Homo sapiens: one gene and its partner. The protein of the gene in region 2 interacts with the protein of the main gene of each other region in a pairwise test. Each region holds a gene or a part of one and is shown on either strand. Other genes may lie near its edges.

Region 1 (3,835 bases), on a different chromosome or scaffold from region 2:
AATCATGGCTCACTGCAGCCTTCACCTGGGCTCAAGTGATCCTCCCACCTCAGCCTCCCAAGTAGCTGGGACTACAGGCACATGCCACCAAGCCCAGCTAATTACTTTTTGTAGAGATGGCGTCTTGCCATTTTGCCCAGGCTGGTCTTGAATTCCCGGGCTCCATTGATTTTCCTGCCTCAGCTTCCCAAAGTGCTAGGATTACAGGCATGAACCACTCCACTGTGCTTGGCCTTTTTCCAAATATTTTTGAACCAATCTGCCATTGGTTGCATCATGGAACCAGAGGCTGCATGGGCCGACTGTATATACACTTGGCTTTGGAATCTTGGTAGTATGAAGCGGCCAGTCTGCAGGTCAGATTAAGTCTGTAGGTCACCTAGATCAGTTTCCTGGCCAAGAGCAACAAAATAGCAACCACAGAGCATTCAGTCGACTATACATGGCTATCTTCTCAGGGGGATTCCCACTAAAATAGGTATGAGAATAATTTCTATTTTAAAAAATGATTTGTTTCCATTCTGATGGACATGTTTACCCAAAGGTTATCATGGGAGACAGAAAATTCAAAGGTATAGAGAAACCTACTTTATTTTATTTTTTTTTGAGACGGAGTCTCGCTCTGTCGCCCAGGCTGGAGTGCAGTGGCACAATCTCAGCTCACTGCAACTTCCGCCTCCAGGGTTCAAGCAGTTCTCTCACCTCAGCCTCCTGAATAGCTGGGATTACAGGTGCGTGCCACCATGCCCGGCTAATTTTTCTATTTTTAGTAGAGACAGGATTTCGCCATGTTGGCCAGGCTGGTCTCGAACCCCTGACCTCAAGTGATCTGCCTGCCTCGGCCTCCCAAAGTGCTGGGATTACAGGTGTGAGCCACCACGCCCAGCTGAGAAACCTACTTTAAAATTCTGATTAGCTTGGGCCGCTTCTTCTCAGTAAATCTAGATACATAGCAGGGTATCCTGTCTAGACTTTCTGCAAACTGGAGCTATCTGCCCAAGCAAGGTATTAAGTGTTCAATATGTTCCCATCTTCTAGGTACTAGCACCAAAAATGAAAGGAATGCATGATCCTGCGATCTTAATTGAACTCTGTAAAATAGGCAGTCCATGTTCCCACCCATCTCAAGAAGTGATGTGCAAAGTGTGCAAAGCTCTTTGCAAAGTCAATCAAAGAAACTCAAATACTTGTCCCTGTACGTGGGGAAAAGTGTACTTTGACACATCCCTGCCTCACCCTAGACTTCCTGGGCCTGAGGTTTTTTCTTGTTAAGGAGATCCCAGGATAAAAATCAGTAAAAGGTTGTGACTTTTTCATGCAACTGAAGCAATTTAGGTTGCAAACATCTTCTGCTCATAAATCTGACTTGCAAAGTATCCTTACAACCAACCCTCATGAGCTGGAAGAAAATATTGAATGGAATTTATAATTGTCAGTGTCAATCATGCCAAGAATTGAAATAACTATTTAATTTCCTTTCCCCCCCTTTTCCTTCCCATCAGATGATAATATTTGAGGGGTTTGGATGGCTTTAGCTATACATTGTTTAATTATTCCATCCTACCCAAGCATACAGATGTTAGTGGATCAAATGAGGCACGTGAAAAGTATCTCTCTATAAATGTAAAATATGCAAATGTTTACATGTTGACAGTGATAGGCTCTACTACTTGCTGTATAAGCGAGACCAAAGTCCAGGCCAATGGATAATAATGAGGTTGTGGACCTAACTAGGGGGAGCCTAAAATAATGTTGGGACTACCTAGATGGTCAGAAAGAATGAGCCAATTAACTTCTAAAATCATGGACAGCTTCATTGCTTGGTTCTTCCTCAGGGCAGGTCTGAATTAGACTACTATTAACATGTTGTAATAAAAAAGGATTTTGATCTCAGAGATTCTGAATTATTTACAAATAATAAAGCAAATTAATAAGCAAATTAGAAGTTTTAGTGGATATTGCTCTTGATGGTGGTTTTGTTACTGTTGGTGGGGGTAATGGTGATGGCAGTGGGCACGCCCATATACATTTGCATACACTCTAATATAAATGTTTACAAACATACACACACACACATTCAATTGCCACTCAATTCCTGCTGTGAGTACCCTTCAATGGACAGCTCCAAACCAATTCAATGTTTTTTATTTGAATTTCCCTTGACATGACCAGAAAAAGACATCTTTATGAATCCTTATCAACAAACAGGAAAAATAAGACATGAAGCATTATTTAGACTAGCTCTTGAGCATCCTGTTCACGTTACCTGAAACAATGCTGGACCCTGGGAGACTAAGCAGCTCCTGCGGCCCTAGCTTACTGTCTCCACCAAGAATGCCACCAAATGACATCTAATTGCTCTTCATTAGGCTGGGGGACATTCAGTGCAATCGTAATAGGACCAAAATAGGTTTCAAAGTGTTCTGAAAGGTTTTCCTGTGTATTTTTAAGTTTATATTTATGTGGCCAGGCATGGTGGCTCACGCCTATAATCTTAGCACTTTGGGAGGCCGAGGCGGGCAGATCGCTTGTGCTCAGGAGTTCGAGACCAGCCTGGGCAACATGGTGAAACCCTGTCTCTACTAAAAATACAAAAATTAGCCGGGCGTGGTGGCATGTGCCTGTAGTCCCAGCTACGTGGGGGACTAAGGTGGGAGGACTGCTTGAGCCCAGGAGGTCGAGGCTGCAGTGAGCCAAGATCGTGCCACTGCACTCCAGCCTGGGTAACAAAGTGAGACCTTGTCTCAAAAAAAAGTTTATGTAATGTTTTTTCTTGCTATGAGAGGTCTCAAAACAAAACAAAACAAAACTGCTTCATAAAAGAAAAAAGCTAAATTTGAAGCAACTATTTTGGATTCCCAAAAACAGACATCTTGATCAAATTTAGAATGCAGCAACAATAGGTTTATTGTTATGGCCTTAATGTCATACTCTGTGCTACTCAGATTTTCACATCTGTTTCAGCAGGCAAAATCCTGCAGAGATTTGATACTGTATGAAACATTCAAAGCTTTATGTTAAAAAAAAAAAAAAAAAAACAGCAGAAGTTAACTGAAGACTCACTGTTGGGGACCACAAGCTCACTACTGTATTTTGTGCTAAGCTAATATGCACCAACCATTTCCTGTAAGGAGCCGTGTGACTGGGCACATGATTTATTCCACAAATGACCCAGCTCTCTGCAAGGCTCACACATCATCTAAGAGGAAATAATCGTCTGGGTGGAGCCCATAACAAACAAGAACATGACACTGGACAGGAGGAAAGGGAAGTGCCTAAGGAAGAACTAAAACTGCTCTTCTGCACAGAAATCCAGGGCTTTGAGGAAGTGCAAGTCCCCCATGGAGGAAGGCCACAGTACAAAGTGTTAGATAAGTAGGGTTTGGGTAGAGAGAGGAAAGCAGGTAGATGGGTTGCACAGCACTGCACAGATACTTTCTTACAACGGGTGAGAAAGCTTCCCAAGGGCCATGCGAGCACTGGCCAGGAGCCTTTGCATGGCATATGGAGCAAATGCCGTCTGCCACTTGGTGTCTGAATTTTTTTTGCTCTTGTCCTTTAGTGATTCCTGAGTGTGTTCCAAATTATGTTGCTAGCTTGGCTTAGACAAAAGAAGACAATTTGATAAGAAACACAAATGTTGGACAATTCATGTTAAATCACCATCTGGCCTAACAGAAATATTCATGTTTAAAAAATATATATCATCATTTGCCAACTGGGTAATCTGTTACACATTTTAGGGAAATCTGAAGTTGGACAATTAACTCATACCACTTTAAAACAAACATCTTTGTACCAGGATAAACAAAGAAGAAAGGACTTGAACACAGAA
Region 2 (2,804 bases):
AACTATATGTTTTGCTGTTTTAACGTAGTGACTCACTGAACTAAATACATAATTGACCAACATTAAGTGTATTTCCAATACAGAAGGGTTGAAAATATTACATTATAAACTCTTTTGAAAAATGTATCTAAAATTTTTTAAGTTCTGTTTTGATTCCACTTTTTGGTTGAGTTTTTATGTTTTTGTTTTCAGGTAGATTAATAAATCTGGCAGCTGATTTCTGCAAGATTCTTGTGTTTTGAATTTCTCATTGAATTGGCTACTCAAACATAGAAATCATTTGTTAATGATGTAATGTCTTCTCTCAGCTTTTATCTTCACTGCTGTTTGCTGTCTCTTGATGATGACATGTTAATACCCAATAGATTAATTGCAACAAACACTTATACTCAAATAACTAAGTAAAAATAATTTTTCTTGTTATGTCCATGAAAAGTGCTTCAGAATAAAAATCCACAAGACTGACAGTGCAGAACATTTTTCTCAAATCATGGGCGGATCTTGGAGGTCTAGTTTCCCGTAGATGCTGTAACCAATTACCACAACTTCAGTAATTTACACAAATTTATCTTATAGTTCTGGAGGCAGAAGTTCAAAAGAAGCCTTAAGAGACTAAAACCAAGATGTCCTTAGGTCTGGTTCCTTCTGGAGGCTCCAGGGGAGATTCTTCCAGCTTTCACTTCTAGAGTCTGCTGACATTCCTTGGCTCCTGGCTACATCACTTCAATCTCTGCTTCCATGGTCACATACTCTTCTACTATAGTCAAATTTCCTTCCTGCCTCTTATAAGGATGCTTGTGATTACATTTAGGGGATGCTCAGATAATCCAGGACAATCTCTCCATCTCAAGATCCTTAACTTAATGACGTGTGCCAAGTCCCTTTGGCTAGATAATTATTCATAGGTCCCAGGGATTAGGACATGGATGTAAGGGGTGAGGGCAGGGCTGTTATTCAGAACACCGCACGGAGGAGGAAGACTGTGTAGCAAAGACTCTAATTGATTTACTCAGGAACAGTGGAGTTCTGCTGAGGGATCTAGGATTTGAAAGTACTAGAGTTTGCTTTTATTTACCACTGAGATATTTTCCCCTTATTCTGCATAAATAATTTTGAAAACTTTCTATATTAAATTTCAACTATTCCACTAAAATGTCTGGTAATCACATCAAGCCTTTAGATTATTCAAATCCTTCCCCAGCCCCCAGGAAAACACTAAGTCATGAAACAGAAAAACAGAAGGTATGATAATAATAGTAATAACAGTTAAATCAGTGGTCTAATCCAGATTTTATTTTTTAATACATTTCTTTTGGTGTTAATATGGGTTACTATGTGATCTTATCATTTGCTAGTGATTATTACTTATTAGGTAAGAACAATGTGTAAAATATGTCTATTACTCAAAAGAACAATTGCAAAATGAGTCAACTTATCTTTATATAACCAGGAAAGAAATATATTGCCAGAAGCTACAGAATTTTGCCAGATGATAGGGATTTCTAAAATGAGCCACTTTGTCTATCATGCAGCCTTTTCAGAGCTTGTAATGAGAAAACATTACAGAGGAGAAGGTCATTTGGATGTTTGTTACTTGGAATCCTAGAAAACAAAAACTAAAATTTAAAAATAAGAAGTGAGTAAGCTATTTTCCATTTGCGATTTGGTATGGAGAAGAGAGGAAATAGAATTATTAAAAAAATACAAATTGGGTAAAAGTGATGGTGGAAAAAATATAAAGAAGGCAAATGTACATATTAAGCAATTCTACTAAGAATTGGAAAAATCAAGTTTCAAAAAGATGGTAATAGTTGGGCATGATACTAGAAAATTTCACCCAGTTTATTCAGAGCTCAACTAGTACTTTTAGGACTTCTTTTTTTATATACATGAGACTCACTTTGACATACTTAAAAAAAAAACAGTTTATGGAAAGTACAGTTTAAGAGGAGAATTTGATTAGACTAAGTGGATATCTTTATAGAAATATTAATGATTTCAGAATTTTCAGTTACAAGTGTATATACCGTGGCTATTGTTTATGGATTCATATGTAAGGTAGGGTCTTTTTTGCATATAGACTCCAGTATTAGTTACTTTCATTCTAAAATTATATTTATGCTTCTATGGGGAAGAAAATTTTTAATTCACTTGGTTGTATTAAAATTATACTTACGGTTTGAGAAAACATGCTATGAAAATCATGATTATAGCAAATTAAATATGCTCAAAATTTAAATCTAAAATAAAAGCCCAGAAACTGAAAATATTGGACTGTCGTGATCACTCTGAAAGGTAGCACATCTAAAACTGATAAACGTCATCTAAATTTTTGACTGTCTTCTAATCATCGTGTCATTTTTAATAGTTTATGACCACAGCACTCAAGTAATGTGTTTGCACTACTTTGCCATATATTATTCTTTTAGATAATTTAGATACCAGGACACCTGATAAATCCTTTTTGAGTTCTACGTTCTAATCTCTGTAAATATCTTGTTTCACATAAATCCTTCAATAAATGTATCATGGAGAAATTTGGGGAAGGGAACTAACTAAATTATTTCAGTGACTCCCACATGCCAGACAGCACAGATATGTGAATTATGTTACTGCCTCCAAATTGCTTGGTTTTGTCTGGTGAGAAACTGAAGCTAATGGCAAAACCAGTATGTCTTGGTGTCAAGATGTCGTGGTCACAGGCAAATCATGAACCCTACCTTTTGGGGAACTTGGACCTAGCTACTTTTCTGATTTAATTTCTAATGACAAAAATATCTATAATAATAACAGATTCTGCTGAA

The links.
Region 1: the proteins of ETV1 (region 2) and NFE2L2 interact in binary tests that used the Homo sapiens proteins (3 or more experiments, as listed by UniProt).

The regions. Positions count from the first base shown.
Region 1 is NC_000002.12:177,236,931-177,240,765, forward strand, and holds part of NFE2L2 (nuclear factor erythroid 2-related factor 2), read right to left. Parts: intron 1-3,835.
Region 2 is NC_000007.14:13,890,692-13,893,495, reverse strand, and holds the end of ETV1 (ETS translocation variant 1), read left to right. Parts: 3' UTR 1-2,267; downstream 2,268-2,804. UniProt on the Homo sapiens protein: Transcriptional activator that binds to DNA sequences containing the consensus pentanucleotide 5'-CGGA[AT]-3'. Required for olfactory dopaminergic neuron differentiation; may directly activate expression of tyrosine hydroxylase (TH).